Linked DNA regions of Homo sapiens: regions 2, 3 and 4 are each linked to region 1. The links come from fine-mapping of genetic effects on plasma protein levels. A gene starts in region 1. Each other region holds a variant in brackets. All regions are shown on one strand. Distances are between the middles of the regions.

Region 1 (5,151 bases):
TGTGACATCAGTTGTTTCTATATACATAAACTAAAATAAGTATCTGGACAAACTAAATAGTTTTGCTCAAACATGGAAAATTTTTTGACTAGCCCCTCCAAATTGCTTCTATTCTAATCTTCATTTAGCTACACAGACCTTCCCCCAAAAAGGTAATCTTTGTGTATACTTGTATGACCCTTTTACATCAACATGTTATATGTACATATAGGAATGAACAAAATTAAAATCTAATAAGAACATACAAGTTATATCACTATTCTCCTTGCTATACGGTTATAAAATATGATGAGATTATGAACTTTAAAACAATCTTCCCAAAGATATTGAGAAAATAAATATGGATTAAAACGTGATTCTATATTTCTCCAGGCAAGATGACTTCATATACAACTAGGCATATAAGTAAAATTTAAATATTTTGTATAGTCCTAGGGTGGAAAGTCTAAGAAAAAGACCCCAGTTTCCAGAGGCTACTGGCCAATTCAGGACCAATAAATATATTTAAACTGGAGACAAATATAAAATCATGTAATTATGTATGATCATTGATAGCATTGCTGTAAGATCCAGTTACTTACCATCTGAGATCTTTTATGCATTTGGAATGTTTATTTTTCAACCTTGGATATACGGTTTGATACCTCTACCTTAAAAAGAAGCTGTGTCTCTTGCTGCCATTAAAAGACAGGGTAGGGGGAAAAGTCAAGTAACAATACTTGTTAGCTTCTCTTTCCTTTAACTTATCCCTGGGCAGGGGTGGGGGAACCTTTAAGCAGAGAAAACAAACTTTCCCTCCAGCACATCATTGTATAAGGACTATACCATTTCTCTGAATAAAGAAGAAATAAATTCAGCTTTGGAACTCTGCCATTGAGTGGCGGCTCCTGCAAAGGGGACAGTTTGCTATTAATTGTTAATGTCGTCTGCCATTAGAGGGCACTAAACAACTCTACATTAATGAGTTGGAGGGAAGAGAGAAAAGGAGACTGGAAAAGAAAGAGAGGGAGAAAAGGGAGGGAGAGTACGGGTAGAGTCTGGGTAGAGGGAGGGAAGGAGAGAAGAGGGGAAGGAGTAGGGGAAAGAGAGCAGAGGGAATGAGTTGGAGGACTGGAGGGAAAGGGAGAAGGGGAGAGAGACAGCGAGACAGAAACAGACAGAATGATTCTGGAAAGATTAAGAAGGATGTGGAGCCCCCACAGCCGTCTGAAGTGAGCAAAATCCAGTCTCCCCCGGGCCGCCCGAGCCCCTCCCCTCCCGTCCTCATGACGGTAATTATAAAGCGAAAAGCGGCGGCGAGGTCACCCGCTTTTACCAGCCTGCTGCACCGAATGCGCGCGGTGCAGGTGCGGCGGCCGCGGGGCTTTGTGATTCATGCCCACTTTCAAAGGGGGGCTTGGGCCCGTCTGAGAGGCACCCAAACAACTGTCTTCTAATATTAGCACGGCTGTATTTCGGGATCTATTATAGTCTGTCCAGACAGATCCCATTGTAATGGGATCTTTTATTAAAAGATTAGCACTATCTCCTGCAGTTGGTGGAAAAAAATCTGTTATCACTGAGTTATTTGCAGTTGTGGAGGGGGGAAGGTTGACGGAAGATGGGGGGTGGGAGGGCTAGAGGAGGACTGGGGGAGGGTCTGGCGGGGGGAGGGCAGTTGCAGGGGGGGAAGAAGGGCAGATTTGAAATTCGTAGAACAAATCCCAGTGACCTGCGAATGTCCAAGAATTTTGTCTGCATACTTCGCTATCTGTTGTCCTTCGGGCTTCAGATGCGAAAAGAACAAATTTAAAAGGCAGCTTTGGAATAAACAATATAGCATTTTCCGTGAAGTAATCGTTTTATATAAAAGGAAATATCGCCTCCTCAGTTTCATTCAGCGGTGCCAAAAATGTTATAAATGAGAGACCCGCCAACTTTCAGCGAAGAATGCCAGGCACTGTACTTAATAAACTGAGGCTACAGAAGTTCATTATGGATGTTGCAATCTTTTTTATTCCGCGAAAAGAGAGAAGACGAGACAGAAAGAGAGAGAGATTGGAGCCGAGGAGACTGAGAGACAGACAGAGGCACACAGGACAGAAACTGGGGAGTCTCCAGGCGGGAGAGGAAGGGGGGGCCAGACCGCCTACGTCGGCGCCCCCGCTCCGGGCTCCGACTCCAGACGCCGCGAAGTGAAAGGGGAGAAAAGAAAGGGAGAGGGCGAGGCTGTGCCGCGGGGAGACCGGGCCTGAGGTGTTAAACATTTTTGTTTGCTTCCGACTAGTCCAGACGAAGGGCCGCGTCTCGGTAGCGCTCTGCCAGGGTGGAAGGTGCCGGGGCCGGGGTTCCTAGCAACACCTCTGGGCTGGGGGTGGCTGCAAAGTCAGGCACTCACAGACCCAGACACAAAACCTCGCGGGTCCCGCGCCCAGGCTGCGGGTGCCCGGAACCGCCGCGAGGCCGGCGCGCTCCGACCCGACCCGGGGCGGGATATTTGGGCAGCCCGGGGCTCTTCGGCCGTTTGCAAAAGTCTCTTTGGAGCGGAGGAGAGGCAGCACGGAGACAAACTCCCGGGTTCCCCCCGCCACCGCCTCCAGCGCCCCCACCGCGCCCTCCCTCTCACACTCGCGCGCGCGCGCACACACACTCACACACACACTCACACACACACCCGCCACCCCGGGCGCGCCGGCGCTGCCGGCGAGCGGCGGCGAGCAGGACTTGAAGTGGGTGTTCTTCCCCACTCCCCACCCCCGACGCGTAGCCCCCAACCCCCGCCCCGGTCGCCTTCCCCCTCCCTCTCGCTCCTACGCAAATAAGAACTCGACGATTCCCTTCCAGCCGTTTTGATTTCGGGCACCTCCGAAAGATAATTGGGAAGGGTTTCCAGAAGGTGGGAAATGTCACCTGATTCACACTGAACTTTTGAAAGCTCCCCACCCCCAAGGAGCCGCGCACACCCTCGCTCGCGGCCGCCCTCCCACAGCCCCACACACTGGGAGACCGCCCACCGCAAACCGCGGAGACCCCCGTCTAGATTTAAAGCGCGGCTGCGCCCGGCTTCTGACGTCCATTGAATCGCGCGGGCGGCCGGCGGCGAGCGCGGGGCTGCGCCGGGATCGCTGCGCCCTCCGCCGCTGGCCTCTGCGACGCGCGCCGCTCGCCCGAGCCACCCGCCGCCGCGCCGGCTCCCCGCGCCGCTGCGCTCCTCGCCCCGCGCCTGCCCCCAGGATGGTCCGCGCGAGGCACCAGCCGGGTGGGCTTTGCCTCCTGCTGCTGCTGCTCTGCCAGTTCATGGAGGACCGCAGTGCCCAGGGTAAGCGAGTGGGGATGCGCTGGGGAGGCTTGGCTGAGGACAGGGGGGTCGACTTTTCTGTGGTCTCCACTTGGTCTGTTCTGAGCAACGCTGCTCTCGGAAGATGTTGAACCAACTTGGGGACTCCGGGATGGAGAGGAGTGGGAAAATTGTAGGCAATGACACTTTAGGACTGGGAACTGAGTTTGGAGCTCGGTTATCTTGAAAAAGGAAAGGGAGCGAGCTGGGGTCTTAGTAGTTAGGGTTAAATGCTCCAAGTTCTGGCCATGATAACTTTAGATGTGATCTCCTCTGTTTGGCTCTGAAGAAGGGAACAAGTATCAGTAGTAGCCTGGAGATTTCAGTCGACCCATTTGCAGTCTCATCTCTCTCCCTCCCACATCTTTTGGATACTTAAAAAAAAAAAAGGAAAGAAAGAAAAGAAAACCTGGGGGTTTGGGGGAGAGATACTGAATTTTATTTGGTGGCTGGGGGACGTGGTTTCAGAAACTTTGCCCAAACTTGGAAATGTGGGTGCTGAAGATTTTCAAGGGAAGTAGCTTTCTGCCTAGTGGATGCTTCTTCCAACCCCATCCCCCATTCTCGCAAAAAAAAAAAAAAAAAAAAAAAAGCCAAATTATTACCCCAAAGTGCTTTGAGCACTTTACAGTTTTTTTCCCCTCTGCCTCATTCTTCTTTCTGACCCTTAGCTTTCTGTAAAACAGTGAGCAGCCCATAACTGACTTAAATTCTGAAATGGGTTAAGAGCAAATTTCTGAAGCTTGCCTTTTAAAAATAGATTTGTTTATTTCAATTAGTCTTTGGGCAGAATGTTTAAAATAATAATAGCAGCTTGCGATCCAATGATTGTTAAAGTCATATTGGTGATTCATGAGAAGTCTTCTCGACCCAAATCCGAACATTAAAAAGGGGGAAGAGGGAGAAATCACTTGCAAATATTTCTTGCTAGGTATGAGATAGGTACTTATAACCGTGAAATGGTAGGAAGACTCCCCCCTCCCCCCACCTTAAGGCATTACTTTCCCTGCTTCAGCGTTAACATTTTAAGTATGTTGTAAACTGCCCTCCTGGGCACTGCCCCTCGCCGTCTGCATGGCACTGCGCTGGGTTGCCCGCCTTTAGAGGAGAGGCTCTGCCTGGTGCCCGGACGTGGGCGCGGAGGAAAGCAGCCCTCGGAGATTTCGAAAGATCGCGGTGGCCGCGGGCGTGCTCCGGTCTGGCGGATTGCAAAACGGGCCCGTCGGGCTGGCTGCGCCTGGAGGCCGCGCGGGGTAGCTCCGGGCTGGGCCGGGTTGCTTTTTTGCTTTCATTTTTCAGAAGTGCCTTTTGCTTGATCTGTTTCTCTCTCTCTCTCTTTCTTTTCTTTCTTCCTCTCTCTCTTTCTTTCTTCCTTTTTTTCTTTCTTTCTCTTTCTTTTCTTTCTTTCTCTTCTTTCTTTTCTTTCTTTCTTTCTCTTTCCTTCTCCCTCTCTCTCCCCTCCATCTCTCCTCTCTCCTCTCTCTCGTTCTCTTACTTTCTTAACCCCTGTCACAAATAATTCCTGTACCCGCCTACATGAAACCAGCATGTAAAAACATCCGTCGCATCCTGTTTTTGTCAGGTTCTTTAATCTGCTCTTCGAGTCTCTGCAGGTTATGAAATGGGACGAATAAAAGTAAACAGTCTAGTAAAAGTCAATGCAAGCTGCACGTGTTGTGTCTGGGTCACTGGTAACTGACATTGATATGGCTGGGGCGCCCTGTCTTCTCCCTCTCTCCCTCCCTCCCTCTCGCCCACCTCCCATCTCTGTGATCAGGGCTTCCCCCTCCACTGCCTTCTTTTTCCACCCCTCCACCCCTTTCGATTTATTTCCT
Region 2 (5,151 bases), 31 kb before region 1:
GGCGGGGTGGGGGGGGGCTGGGGGGAGGGGCGGCGGTAGTGCGGAGCTTCCAGTGAGCCGAGATCGCGCCAGCGTGGGTGACAAGGGCAAAACTCCGTCTCAAAAAAAAAAAAAAAAGCAACAGTTAAAAATATTCAAGTTGAAAATTTTGTAAGTCCTGAACTTCAGAGAAAAAAAGGGCAGAACACAGGGTGGAAATGGAAGCACTTGTTTCCAATAGCAAAACATGAGCTCGCAAGTCAGGGCTAATACTACTCAACAATTCCAGATTCCCAAGCTGAGGATGACTCATAATTCATGAGCATCAAGACTAAAGATGATCACTTGCTTCTTTCCATCACTGAAAGATGGGCTGTGTAATGTAAGGATAGAAACAAATATTTTCAGCCTCTACTAGTTTCATGTGGCATTGTTATAAGATAAGGAATTTGTGTTGCAATCACTTCCATTATTCATGATTGTTTTAATTCCCATGCAAGTTAATGAACAGAACAAAGAGGTAGTAAACTAACTCTCTAAAACTAGTGAGTTAAGAGTTTTTGACCAATATTAAATGTTACTCCATTTTTTTCTCATTAAATTTCCATTCAATAGAATACACACTGATTTTACAAGAGGTCATTAATATATAACATTTTTGTAATGTGAGATGTAGGTCACAATCACTTAAAGTCTCATGGAATTATGTTGTTGTTGTCGTTGTTGTTGTTTTGTTTTTGCATCGCTGTTGTCTGTTATACCAGCCTACGAGTTCACACAAGAGTGTCAGCAGAGGGTACCTTTACAATTCACAGGCTAAGACTCATAGTTCAATCCCTCTGAGCCCTACAGCATTCTTGCTTGATTTGTATATCTTAGTAATCTTTTAAAATTTAAAAAAACAGATTCTAATGCAGAGGAAACAGATAACAGATACATAATCAGCCTTGACTTTATTGGAAAGGATTAGTAACATTACCTTGTAAAAATGAGCACAAGTAATTGCCTAATTGGTAAGCCATGCACTTCCGAAGACAATGTAAGTCAACTACCTATTTACTTTTTGTTTCATGTATTATATTTACTTACAGGCTTTTTCCTGTCTAAAGACCCTTCATAACATGCCACATTGGTATTGTTCATGCTAGATTATAAAACCTCAAGGCTGGGACTATGGCATAAAGATACATAGTATAAGTGCTTTACAGAGGGTGGGTGGATGGGTTAGTTGTGAAATAAATATTTCTACAAAGTCTTCAGTACTTATAAGGCACCTACTGTTTAGGACACTATCATTTCAGTGGTTCATTTTAGTGTTAGAGAAAAGTAAATTTCACTTTGGTTATCCATTTCTGAGCAACAAAGTGGTTCATTGCCATCTTCCTGATATTTGCAGGAACTGTCATAAGACATTACCAGAGGAAGATTAAGACTGTGGGTACAGGAAAAGATTGATGACTTAGACCTTTTAGTTATCACCTACATAACAGAAGTGAAAACATTCATAAGGACTAAGTTCTTTTTCTTTCCTGCCTCTCTTTCTAAACCTGTTGGCATCATGAAGACTGTTCTTCCCTCCCTGGGTCTTCTTCCTTTTTCCAAAGAATTCTAAAAATGGGTAGCCTCCAAGGTTGAGTCTTCAGGCTTGCCTCAATCGGGGATGCCAGCCTCAATCACTACAGCTATGCTGGTGGCTCCCAAACATATATTTCCATTCCTAACATCCCATAAGAATTCTTGGCCTACATTTTCCAGAAAATAATATTACTTATGCGTCCAAACTCACGTTTTTTGTCCATCTCTCTGACAACTATCTTCTTTACCAGCTTTCCTACTTTAATTATTTATCATTGTACCTTCTTCATATACTCCCAACTCATTATTCCCTTTCTCTGTTTAATTTTCTTCAAATAATTCATCAACAGCTAACATGCTACATATTTTCCTTATTTACAT[T/G]TTTATTATCTGTTTCACTTGAACATAAGCTCCATAAGGTTGGGGAGCTTTTGATATCTTTATTCTCTGTATCCCAGTACCAAAAATACAGCACGTACTCAATAAATATTTCTTGAATAAATGAAAATATTAAGTGGATAAATGAAAGGATGAAGCCATAATGCTCCAAAACTTCTAGACCAGAAAAATTAGAATTATATTTGATTCTGGTCTCACATCTGCCATCTACATCTAATCAGTTACAAAATCCTATGATTCATCCTTTCAACATTTTCTCCCAACTGAGTCCAAACCCTAAAATGCTTCCCATGTGGATTTTTAAAAAGCCTCAGGCCAAGCATGGTGGCTCAGGCCTGTAATACCAGCACTTTGGGAGGCCAAGGTGGGAGGATCATTTGAGGCCAGAAGTTCAAGGCCAGCCCCAGCAACATAAAGAGACTCCATCTCTACAAAACAAACAAACAAACAAAAAAAACATTTAATTAGCTGGATGTGGTGGCATGTGCCTGTAGTCCCAGCTACTCTGAAGACTGAGGTGGGGAGGATCACTTGAACCCAGGAGTTTGAGACTGCAGTGAGTTATGATCACACCACTGCACTCCAGTCTGGGTGACAGAGTAAGAGATCCTTGTCTCAAAAAAAAAAAAAAAAAAAAAAAGTGTCTCCAGGCTCCCTCCATTTCAATTACTTTCTTTCTTCAGATAATCCTTCTCAATCCCTAGTTCTCATCACTCTCAGAATCTAAAATCCTCTATAACCTGCATAACCTGACCTCTAATACATACTAACTTTACTGATAGATTCTAATTCCCAATTACTATTTATCATTCCATTTTCTCTTTCACTTAGACTGAACTGACTATTCCCCTTACATGCAATGCTCATTCCTACCTTGATGCCTTTACTTGGGATATTTCTACTACCTAATGTCCTTTTTTCTCCTCATCTTATTCAAATCCTATATATTTTTTGTTAGATCTAATTCCCAGCTATGTTCCATGGAGCTCTTTAAAACCTTTACCAACAACCACAGCCCATATTGATTCTGGCTTTGTCTGGTCTCTGGAAACTCATATTGTCAGAACTTCATAATCCATCACTCCATTGATCAATGGTTTCATGGCTTCACCTTGGCTCTTTAATACAATGGCAACACAAATATAGCTGAACTATTCTCATGACCAGTCTAAGATCAGTGCTGAATTCAACAGAAACATAAGTCCAAAACCCAAGGATACTCTTGAAAATATCTTAAATTTTTACTGACATTTTTTCAAAGAGACACAGCAAATATCCTAAAGCTCCTCCTTTTCCATCATTATCTCTGAAGTCTTCTTAACAGCTGCTCAATAATCATTCTTTTCTCACTTACATTTTCCACCCTTAAAACTCCAGTCCATGCTGCAGTTTATTCCTTTCATTATCCCCTTACCTCTTGAGACTGAATCTATTATTCTTCCAAAGATTGCTTTCTGCCCTATTTCTTCTATACCAATTTAGACTTTGGGGGCTCTTTCCAATAGCGGACATAGACATTAACCAAAACAAAATCCTACTTCCTGGAACTGCTGAAGTAAAAATGACACTTTCTCCTGCAGAAATAGAGAAAGAGGAAAAGCTATAAGTTTTTTACAGGCTTTTTATTCCTGTCATACATCCCTCCTAGCTAAACCTTTGTGGATCTCTGAAAAGGACATATCACTTGTTCCCTTGAGGCATTTCCCATTGGATGCCAAGCCTTTCCAATCTTTATTCTTCTTCTGTGGGGTTGGAAGATTTATTTTAACAACAAACTTAATTGTGAGGTGGTCTGAGCCAGACAGTGACCTCTTTACCCTGAAGCTCCAGCTATGCACCCTCCACCTCCAGCATAGCAGTGATTTCTGTGCCTCTGTCTTTCACACCCTTGGAGGAGCACATTAGATAAGTGCCTTGCCCAGGCCAGCCCTTCCCTCCAGATGTTTTGTCCTCTGCCAGAGAAAGATCATCTAGTCACCAAGTTGTTTTTCTCACAGTTCCATGACACTGTGGCATCATCTGTGGGCCAAATGGGCTGCCATGTGACAGTGAAGCAGCCTCAGGAGCATAGAATAATGAACAACTCAACCCCTGGGGAAATCCACAGGTGGAAACATTATAGCAGGAGACCAGTGGGGCCAAAAAATGGTAGACACAATGTGACAAATGGAAGGGCAGTGGCAAATGCAAAGAAGCCTCTTTTCATGAGTACACAGAGGACACCCCCAGACATTTTCCATAATAGTTGAGGGGGGCTTTGGAAGAGCTAAGGTCTGTCAATAGAGACAGTGTAAGTACAGAACTAGGAACACAATGATACTGTTTATGTGATTCCAAGTTTACTCCTTGGCTCTCCAGCTGGGAAAACAAGGGTTTCGTGGAAAATAAAGGCCACATCTACCTCAAAGTGCTCTTGTAAAATGTGCATCACAATATGTGGAAAGTGTAAACATAGGGCCTAGCACATAGTAGGAGCATGGTTAATGGTTCTTTTTCTACTCCTCTGCCCAGCTGCCCTCTCCCCCCACCCCAAGAGCAGCCTCCATATCTCCCAAGGATTTATTCATTCAAAAAATATTCATCAGGCTTTTACTAGGCATTGGAATACAGTGGTGAAAAGACAAAAATAATTATACCTTGCTGGAGAGTAGGGCACAGAGCAGGTGCTTAATAAATATTTGTGAATTGACAAGACCAATCCCTAGTAGTCCCATCTCAGACAACTCTTTACTGGAATCCTCATACCCCAGAGAGCTCTAACCAGGATTTGCTGTCACAGGAAGTAGTTCATGTTGACTTTATGCTTAAGGATAACCAAGAGATGGAAATATAAATAGGTGTCCTGGGGAAAAAGAGATGGCTGAGAGGCCTAGATTGCAAATAAATTGCTAAAATGTCTATCTCTATCAATAGAAAGAAAATCTGGAAATTCCAGAAGGGAAAATATCAACATTTACCATACCAAACCATGCCAAAGCCCATCACAAATCAAAGTAAGAAAGAATCAAATGAAAATTGTTATTGCTGAATTTTGTCCTAAGTGTGCATATATCATTCAAGTTATACAAGTTAATTCTTTATCACAGTTGATAATAAGTATTAAAAGGAGTCAGATTACAACTGGATTTCATTTAAACAAAGGACATTGAATAAAATGAACTCTACATTTAAAATAGACCAAAACTTTTAAATATATCA
Region 3 (5,151 bases), 540 kb after region 1:
ATGAACAGAGCCTCAGGAACCTGTGGGACCATAATCGAAGATTTCCTTTGTGTCACTGAAGTTTCAGAGGGAAAAAAGAAAGAGGGTGTGGCTGAAAACTTCTTCTAAGAAACAATGGCTGAAAATATCCCAAATTTGGCAAAAAGACATAATGATTGAAGAAGTTTACAGATTGAAGTTTAGAGAACCTCAAACATTTGAAAAACCCATGGAAATCCATGCCAAGATACAACATAATGAAATTTCTGAAAAATAAAGACAAAGAAAAAGCTTCAAAGCAGCAGGGCAGAAAGGGACACCTCACCTAAAGAAGAATAAAAATTAAAATGACAGCAGATTCCTCCCCAGAAACCACGGAAGCCAGAAGGAAATGATGCAACATTTTCAAGTGCTGAAAGAAAAGATCTGTCAAGACAGAATCTGATTCTCAGTGAAAATATCCTTCAGAAATGAAGGGGCAATTGAGACATACTCAGACGAAGGGAAACTCAGAGAATTTGTCACTGGCAGACCTACCCTAAAGAAATGGCTACAGAAAGTTATCAAAATGGAAGAGAAATGATAAAAAGAAGAAATACTGGAACACTGGGAATAAGGAAAATTGAAAAGAGCAAAAATACGCGTAAGTATTATTGGGGCTCAGGAAACAATGTCCCAAAGTATGGTGCTTTGGCATGCTGAGTGCTTTGAATCAAGGTTTCTCTGACCTTCTCCTCACCCTCCTCCAGTCCCCTGCTGCCCCTGTCTCTCATCTCTTGCCCCTCTTTCCCTCCCAAAGTGCAGGAAGGTGCTTTCTCTGAAGTTCCCTTATCTGACTAAGGGAAGTTCCTCCAGAAGAAATGCAATTGCTTTGAGCCCCCCTCTCTATAATCTTATCAAACAGAGAAGATTAGCTCACAGGAAAGGAGACTAAAGGTCAAAACCACCTATTCTGAAGATTGCTAGCTGAGAGACTTTATCCGTATAACAAGACAGCCTCTGCTCATCACACATTTTTCTCCCCTCAAACCTCTATAACCTGTTACCACCTCCCACCAGAAATCCCAGCCCCTTATTTCTTTCTGTAGCTCAAAATGCTATTTAAGCTTCCACCATCAGGCCCTTTTTTGAGTCTCATATTGTGTGGGGCTCCCGTCTATATGCATGTAATAAACGTGTGTGCCTTTTCTCCTGTTAATCTGTATATTGTCAACTTTATTCCAGAGACTCAAATTATTGAACCTTCAAAGGATGGAGGGAAAGTTCCCTTCACCCCTATGCCCTTCTCCTCTTGAGAGATATCATGTTTGATGGTGGAAGAAAAAATTACAACACTGTCTGATGTGGTTCTCAATGTTCTCAAAGAGGAGATATAAAGAAGAATAAGTAGAAATCGTTGAACTGAAAAATGTAATAATGAAATTAAAAACTCAATGGATAGGCTCGACAGCAGGATGGAGAAGTCAGGTCAGTGAACCTGCAGACTGAAAAACAGGAATTACCCAATCTGAACAACCGAAAGAAACTAGACTGAAAAAATAAAAAATATTTAAGACAATTATATTATAAATGAGGAGGGTAAAGGGATGTAGAGAGAGATAATAATTTTTACATTGGACTTGAATTAGTAAAATGTTGACACAAATAGGCTGTTAAAGATTATGGATGTACAGTGTAATACCTAAAACGACACTAAAAATCTAAACAGACACATTTAAAAATATTACAGATATATGGAAATGCAATTATAAACAAAGTTCAAATAACCCTCAGGAAGGCAGGAAAAACAAAACAGTGAAAGGTAAAGAGACGGTTAAGTCGAAAAAGCAAAAAATGAAATGGCAGACTTAAGCTCTAGACTTTCGAAGATGGGAAATACAGGATTGACTCTAAAGGGGTACGACTTTATCTTGATCATGGTGGTGATTACCCAAATCTACACATGTGAAAAAAAAAAAAGACATGGAACTATATGTACACATTATACCGTTGGGGCTCAGAAACTGATACACCAAAATATGGCGCTTTGATGTGCTTAACTGAAGAAGAAGCCTTAGGCCTCTCTGACCTTCCTCCTCCCTTCCTTCTCTCAATCCTCTG[C/T]GCCTCCCAAAGCAAAAGATGAAGTTATTCTCTGAAGTTCCCTTATCTGCTGAGAGTCTGGACTTGCCAAAGAAGAAAACAATCACCTCTGGTCCCTTCCCTGAGTTTTCATTAACTGAACTCATATCACAGGAAGAAAGACTGAAGTCTGTCAACACACCTGAGCAGGTTTTTGTCACGAACCATCGTGTCTGCTCTGCTGGCCCAACAGACTTTGTCCTAGGCCGGTGTATGTTCTTCAAGCCCACTGAATTCCCCTAAAAATCATTTACTACTCTCCTAAAATCATCCCTACTTCCCCATCACCCTTTCCCCTGAGAAGAAGGGTATATAACCATCAGCACCCCACTATGTGGTGGATTAATCACTCTGGGATTCTTCCCTGTGTGTGTTAATAAATTTGTATGCCTTTTCTCCTATTAATCTGCCTTTTGTCAGTTGATTTTCAGTGAACCTTCAGAAGGCAAAGAGGGAGGCTTGCCCTTGGCCCCTACGATACAAGTTTCCTGGCTTGGTTGTTGTACTATATGGTTTTATAAAATGCAACCATGGAGAAAACTCGGTGACGAGTACACAGGATCTTTCTCAGCTATCTTTGTAACTTCCTGTGACTCTATAATTATTCCAAAATAAAAATCAATGGCAGTTATGTAACATGAAGCTACATGCAGGTAATGGTACTTTTGCAGATTTGTGAAGAAAACCAAATTCGTGAGTAACATGTACTGCGATGTTAGATTTATCCATACTTTTTAATACTTTGTATTGTATAAAAACTTAGTAAAAAGACACAATTTTAAAATTAATATCTGATACAATTTTACTTGTTATTTTAGGGTCGGTATGGTACTAACTCAATTCATATAATTATTATGTCTCCAGGAATAAGATGTATAATGAGGATTCCTAAGCAAGCCTATGAGTTACTTTGCAAATATTCAAGAAGAATGTATTTATGTTCATCATAACACATAACCCTATTTCCTCATATCTAAACAACATATGGTTACTCATATTTAACCAGAACAGCTAACAATAACAACCTATTACTCAATAATCTGGATAAAGAATTTGTAGTGTCAAGAAAAGAGATATATATACAAATACATATGTATATCTATAGTTAATACAAATACTCACAAAGTATAACATATAAAATCCAGAGGCTTTTGAAAAGGCAATTCAAGAAGGAAAAAAACATTTTTTATGCATTTACCAAATAAGTTAATGTGGAATAAACATTTCATGAAGTGTTCAACATAAAGTGATACAAAAAATGATAAAAGTAGGTTTTATATGTCTATTTGTAGTATGTGTGTTTATGTTATATACACATATTTTTTAACATAAATTTTCCACTTTTACTAAAACCAATAAAGATAAAGGAAAAGTAGGGCCAAATCCCAGGCAGATTTGATATCTACAGAAAAACATGAGAGCACTTTCCTGCCACTAAATGGAAATGAAACAATCCTTTCTTTGTGGAACAAATGGAAAGTGAGGATAGCGACCAAAAGCTTAAGTTTACCCTCACCTGAGTTTTCTTATATCTGCTAGTTGAATACACACATATGATATGATTGCAGAGAGACAAAGGGACCAAAAAAAAAAAAAAAAAAAAGCAAACAACAGTCACATATTGAAAGCACTTCCCATGCCAAGAACAGCAAACCTAATATCATGGCTTGTGAAGGCGATTCTGTAAGGAAACAGAGAATTTAATTCAATTTCTTAAAATTAATTGGAACCTTGAATATAAGATGCTGGACTGATAAAGAACCTGAGGCAAATTTCTAGTACATCATAATCACATTTTCATGAACAAGAATTTAAAAATCGGAAAGTGCTATAACGAAAAGACATGTGTTTCTTTCTGAATAAAAGCAATACCAAGTGATAAGGGATAATCACTGCTTTTCTTTCCTCAGTTTAGTGGGAAAGATCCTATGCTACTGGCAAGTTATTTGTTTGTTTGTTTGTTTGTTTGTTTGTTTGTTTCGGTAATTACAATCCGATCACATTAGTGAGAAAGCTATTTCCCAGGGATAAATTGACCAGGAAGGGATTTTGAATATTTTATGCTACTAGAGCATCATCTTATAACAGTAATAATTTCCGGGAGGATTTTACTTGCCTTGAATATTGTGCATCTTCTTGGAACTTTTTCTTAGAAATATTTATAGAACTTTTCAAATCATAGGTATTGTTATTTCTTAAGGTGCCTCTTTGGGAGGAATATTAGAAATACCAACTTCCTATAATAGCCTCTACCAAGAAGCAGAGGGCTTGATGGGATAATTTCTAAAAACAAACCAAGAAAACCTAAATACATTTTTAGTACCAAGGTGATGACCATTTATCAAAGAAGTAAATAATTTCATGCGTTAAATCATTTCCTTATAGTTTTTCATTAGTAACTGAGTTAATGCTGAATTTTTAGACTGACTAGCTTGTTTCAACTTTGACACATATTGTGTTCAAGAAATAATTATTAAGTGAATAAAAATCATATTCTGCACATAGTAAAAATCAAAGTCTATCTTATAATCTGTCACATACCAAAATTATAGCTTTCAATTTATTTTCTTTCTTTATTTTTTGAGACAGGGTCTCACTCTGTCACCCAGGCTAGAGTGCAGTGGCATAATCAGAGCTCACTGCAGCCTTGACTTCTCAGGCTCAGGTGATCCTCCCAACTCAGCTTCCTGAGTACCTGGGAATTACAGGTGTGCACCACAATGCCCGGCTAATGTTTGTATTTTTTGCAGAGATGGGGTCTCACTATGTTGGCCAGGCTGGTCTTGAATTCCTGGGCTCAAGTGATCCTCCCACCTCAGCCTCCCAAAGTACTGGAATTACAGGTGTGAGCCAGTGTGCCTGGCCTATACCTTTCAATTTATAATTCTGAGTCGAACATTCAAGAGAGCCAAGGGAAATTTTCTTGAGATTGTAAGGAGTAAAATTCCTAATCTAGTTACAGAAGCTAAGTGGGACTACAGGAGACATGGGTAGAGCTGAGGCCTACCATCATCACAAATATTGCCTGAGCCATTATGCCATTATTTTTGCAAC
Region 4 (5,151 bases), 530 kb after region 1:
AGCAGCTATATTTGATTGTCCTGAAGCTGATGTAGCATTATGTGTCAGAGGAGCTAAATAACTTCTATAACTCAGAAACAGACTTTTTGTTTTTAATGTAGAGAAACTTGTTTAAATGCCAAGAGTCCTCTGGGCATATATATGAAATTTTAAAACACTACATGTAAGAGTGAGGAGAGATGAGTAACCACCTAAGACAGAAATAGTGAGAAAAGGTATCTAGGGAAAAGAAGGTGTGTCTTAATAAATATCAGGCAGACTGTGAAATGTGTACATGAACTGCATTTTAGACTCTATCTCTTTAAGTGTTAATGCATTGCGACTACTAAATGCATTATTAAAATGGTGCCGATTGCTCAAACCTTTGTACCCAAAGCACTGGATTATGTTATCCAAAATTTTAAAAATACAAACAAACACTTTTCATAACAAAAGTTCTCTCAGACTTTTGACCTCTCTCTTTCTGGCATTACACGAAGCTAGAACTTGCAGGGGTTGGAGAATGTGGCCTCTGATCACTAACCAGGGTTTTCTCTTTACACTGGCTTGTTTACTTATTTCTTCACCAAAGCCAGGGAACGTCCCTTTAGCTACTGCAGCATTTCTAACAGATGCGACAAATCACAGGGGTGTATTTTGACTGCTACTCTGTCATGTGAACAAGAGAAACACTGAAATCTTTTCCCAGTCCCTGTGCTTCATCCTTGTTTTCCCAAAATGTTTGTAAACTGCTCCAGAGAATTCTTCTTTTAATATTTGAGTCTTCTTTCCTCTGGTAGATTAAAATGTTAATACTTACGTTAATAAGATAAAATGTCATTAACTGGAAATCATTTTGCATCTCTGTTATCTATTCTGGCATTGTCATTTCAGTATTGTGGCTGATTGGAGGTCCAAGAAACTATTTTAATGTAAGATTACAGAACTAGACACTAGAAATTATTTCTATGTTCATTATTTTAAGGTTTTGAAAATGAGCTGATCATTTTCATTAGAATATCCTGGCAGTAGTATTCATGTTTCATTATAAATAAAATGTCCATTAGAATTTGTGAAATATAAAACAAAAGGTGCTTCATATTATATATGTAAATGCAAAGGTGCCTTAATTCCCACTGATCTTTGACAGCCTAAATGAAAGATCTCCCTGCATTTCTGTGTATTTGCCATCATTGTTAAATTGCCACAAAGTTGCTTTCGACTTTTTAATCATTTGGGAGAAGGCAGCAGTACTGGCAGGAACTTCAAGTAACTTAGCAAAGTGTGTTGCCCTCCTTTTCCTCCACCCAACAACCTAAAATTACCAGCTTTCCATAAAAATTGTAAACTTTCTAACATTCATTTCATTCACTCAAATATAGATTTGTAAGGTTTTTTTAAAGCATATTATTCCAGCATCACTGATTTGTTTAGTTATGAAACACCCCACATTCCATAGAAAGTAATACTTAGGCTTTGTATTACATTTGCTAGGTAGGTAACTGTTTCAGGTCAAAAAACATTGCCCTGAACTCTCTGGCTGCTGCAGACATTCCTGCTTACAACACTATGGACTGCGAATATTGTGCACAAACTCTTTTGTCTTCAGCCCAAGAGATGGAATTCAGCAAACATGCAGTTGACTTTTTCTATAAGAACAATAATTGCTGCACTACTAAATCTTGCAACTTCTATATTAAGACAAACTTGATGAAAAATGGGTCAAAATTTGAGGCTCAATATCAGCCTCATTTGGCAACAGAGCCAATCCTCAGTAATCTGTGGAAATGGCAGGCAGGGAGAGTAGGGAACATCTCCAAAACCCATTTTAGCAATATTCCAACAGTTCCAGTTATCAGAGCTCTTAACAAAGAGCAGAATTTAAGGTTCTTCCTCAATTCTCAGGCCACCCTGGAGGTGAGGTGAGAGAAAGGGAGGAAAGGGCAGGCTCCTGACTCTCTTTACTGAGGAAAAAAACAAAAACAAAAAGACAGAAAGGAGGAGATTAAGACCAACACATAAGGCCACAAAGAAAGGGAGAATGATGACTGTTTTGAAGCGATTTGCATTCTTTTAGCAGACCTGAGTAAAAGGAAAGCCCTCCCGAAAAACACAAAAACACTGCCCCACTCACTTCATTTCTTCCTGAAGGGCAGGCTCAACAGGACTAAAAATCTGCTCCTTGAACAGGAGATTTGCTAAACAATCCATGCATAGTAGTAACATTCACCTTACATTTAATAATTACTTTATAAGTGTCAAAGCAATGACAATGAAGTAAAACAAGTAGATTGATTTTTCAATAAATGAGCTACAAATTTAAGACTTCCAAAACACTGGTCTAAAAAAATTGTCAAGATAGGCAATATTCCAATTGATACTGTCACTGCTAAACATTAGTATTTCCACTGGAATTATCTAGAGAGTTAGTTAACAAGACATTCAAGACAAACAGTCTCAATGCCTAGTAGATATCACCTCATCTTTGACCATATCTGGAAGGGAACCAACATGATTCAAAATATTCACCAGACTTGGCTCTGAATAACCGCCAGCTAAATAAAAAATAATAATAACCTGCAATACAAAGCCCAAGACTGTCCAACACCAAGGACATCTAAAGATGACAATGGTTTCTGAAGAAATTATCGCATTATTTTATTGATCCCAACAATGACTCCATCAAATCAGTAAAATAAAAAAAATTT[T/A]AAAAAAATCAGGCCGGGGGCGGTGGCTCACGCTTGTAATCCCAGCACTTTGGGAGGCTGAGGCGCGCGGATCACGAGGTCAGGAGATGGAGAACACGGTGAAACCCCGTCTCTACTGAAAATACAAAAAATTAGCGGGGCTTGGTGGTGGGCGCCTGTAGTCCCAGCTACTCGGAGAGGATGAGGCCGGAGAATGGCGTGAACCCGGGAGGCGGAGCTTGCAGTGAGCTGAGATCGCGCCACTGCACTCCAGCCCGGGCGACAGAGCAAGGCTCCGTCTCAAAAAAAAAAAAAAAAAATCAGCTCTCACAAAGACTGTGGAAGAAGTCCTTAGTGAAGTGATAAAAGGCCAAATTATAAGACAGATGCCTAGCCTGTGCCGGGAGTGGAAAAAGCCCTCCGTGAGCAGATTTCACGATTCAAGGTTAAGTCTCTAGAGTGAAAATAAGTGTAGTTTCACAGAAGTTGGCATATAAGGAATTCAACCTTTAGAAATATATACTGTGAATATCCAGAGTTCTATACATTATGGCTTTGTAGATTATAAAACTGTAAAATTTAAGTGTTTCACCAAACTTCCACCATTATTACCTCAAAAAGTTGTATTACACAGAACTTCAACTTTCTATATGACCCGTTTCAGTAATGTGTGCATTTCTTAAAATGAGCACATTTCTCCTGTAATCAGAAGAGGTTGGTTTTTTGTTGTTGTTGTTGTTTTGTTTTTTGTTTGTTTTTAAATAAATAACAGAAAAAGGTGTCAGTATTTGGAAATACTATTCTTCATGGGTAGAAACTTGATAGTGATTATATAGGTGGTTAGGGTGAAAAATAGCATGAGTTCCATTTTTAACTTCTTTCCCAGAACATTTAACCTAAAACAACCTAAGACACCGAAGTTAAAAGGCTTGCTAAGTCAGAAAATTCAGGAAGGGAAGCTTGAATGCAGGCAGTCTAACCAAAGGCAGTGGAGGAAATGCTGGAAAACTACGGTCTTAAAAGAGCATAAGGGCCGGGTGTTGTGGCTCACACCTGTAATCCCAGCACTTTGGGAAACCGAGGCGGGCGGATCTCGAGGTCAAGAGATCAAGACCATCCTGGCCAACATGGTGAAATCCCGACTCTACTAAAAATACAAAAATTAGCTGCGTGTGGTGGCACGCACCTGTAGTCCCAGCTACTGGGGAGGCTGTGGCAAGAGAATTTCTTGAAACCAGGAGGCCAAGGTTGCAGTGAGCTGAGATCGCGCCACTGCACCCTAGCCTGGCAACAGAGCAAGACTCTGTCTCAAAAAAAAAAGAGCATAAATGTTTAATAGACAAACCAAATATTGTAAATTTAAGGTAGCATTTCTAGCGATACCTAACAAATTACCATCACTTTGTATAAAAATAACAGATTTTAAATACACTGTTTATATGTGTTCTTAAAATGGCATGCAAACATTATAAAATCCTTTTATAGCCTTGTAATATTTCAGATCAAATAATAGCTCTGAAAGAGATGAGAGAAGATACTGTCCATCCCTTTAGATAAGCAAATATTGTAGTCTTCCAGAAATAAAGATTCTATAACTGGCTGATAGTCCTCTTCATGGTTTTGATTGTTTTATGGGTTCCATGCTTGTATGCATCCCATGAAGTCTCTCAGTTCCCTAGCTCTTATTTGGTCACTCTCCTTTGTATCACTAAAGACAACAATTTAGTTTTGTCTTGAATGATTGAGGACTTGCATTATTACTCACTGGCTGCATTTAACCCAGGCTATGCAAGTTGAAAAACAAACAACAAAAAATAATATTTCTTTTCTTTTTTTTTTTTTTTGAGACGAGGTTTTGCTCTTGTTGCCCAGGTTGGAGTGCAACAGTGAGATCTCAGCTCACCACAACCTCCACCTCCCAGCTTCAAGCAATTCTCCTGCCTCAGCCTCCCAAGTACCTGGGATTACAGGCATGTACCACCACACCCAGCTAATTTTGTATTTTTAGTAGAGATGGGGTTTCTCCATGTTGGTCAGGCTGGTCTCCAACTCCCAACCTCAGGTGATCCACCCGCCTCGGCCTACCAAAGTGCTGGGATTATAGGTGTGAGCCACCACGCTGGACTCTTTTTTTTTTTTTAGATGGAGTCTCGCTCTGTCGCCAAGGCCGGAGTGCAGTAGTGCAATCTCGGCTCACTCACAAGCAATTCTCCTGCCTCAGCCTCCTGAATAGCTGGGACTACAGGCATGCACCACCACACCCGGCTAATTTTCGAATTTTTAGTAGAGACGGAGTTTCACCATGTTGGCCAGGGTGGTCTTGAACTCCTGACCTCAGGTGATCCACCCACCTCAGCCTCCCAAAGTGCTGGGATTACAGGTGTGAGCCACCACGCCCGGACTTCTTTCTTTTTCCTACTTTCTTTTATTCAATTTTAAGACATCTCTATTAGTTTTGAAAACTGAGTATAGAAAGCTAATTTCA

Alleles and levels. Positions count from the first base shown, and alleles are read on the strand shown. Strength reflects both the effect of a copy and how common the allele is.
With allele T in place of G in region 2, the plasma level of the protein whose gene starts at base 3,051 in region 1 is higher (weak association).
With allele C in place of T in region 3, the plasma level of the protein whose gene starts at base 3,051 in region 1 is higher (weak association).
With allele A in place of T in region 4, the plasma level of the protein whose gene starts at base 3,051 in region 1 is lower (weak association).

Evidence for each region. A credible set is the group of variants that fine-mapping cannot tell apart. PIP is the chance, under the fine-mapping model, that this variant and not a neighbour inherited with it causes the effect. The UK Biobank Pharma Proteomics Project read protein levels with antibody pairs (Olink). The fine-mapping took linkage between variants from a reference panel, not from the people measured, so its PIPs are less certain.
Region 2: its variant is the best candidate, but not a certain one, in a credible set for the plasma level of the FST protein (UK Biobank, PIP 0.88).
Region 3: its variant is the best candidate, but not a certain one, in a credible set for the plasma level of the FST protein (UK Biobank, PIP 0.56).
Region 4: its variant is the best candidate, but not a certain one, in a credible set for the plasma level of the FST protein (UK Biobank, PIP 0.71).

Annotation. Positions count from the first base shown.
Region 1 is chr5:53,477,579-53,482,729 of GRCh38, forward strand. FST (follistatin) reads left to right here and starts at 3,051. Exons shown (of 6, transcript NM_013409.3): 1 at 3,051-3,298. The coding sequence starts at 3,214. RefSeq lists an enhancer at 4,284-4,353.
Region 2 is chr5:53,446,826-53,451,976 of GRCh38, forward strand. No RefSeq gene overlaps it. Among named protein-coding and RNA genes, the nearest start is that of FST, 31 kb to the right of the region's middle. The variant T/G (reference allele first, on the strand shown) is at 1,936.
Region 3 is chr5:54,021,608-54,026,758 of GRCh38, forward strand. The region is part of intron 4 of ARL15 (ARF like GTPase 15); the gene reads right to left. Among named protein-coding and RNA genes, the nearest start is that of MIR581, 73 kb to the left of the region's middle. The variant C/T (reference allele first, on the strand shown) is at 2,080.
Region 4 is chr5:54,008,032-54,013,182 of GRCh38, forward strand. The region is part of intron 4 of ARL15 (ARF like GTPase 15); the gene reads right to left. Among named protein-coding and RNA genes, the nearest start is that of MIR581, 59 kb to the left of the region's middle. The variant T/A (reference allele first, on the strand shown) is at 2,688.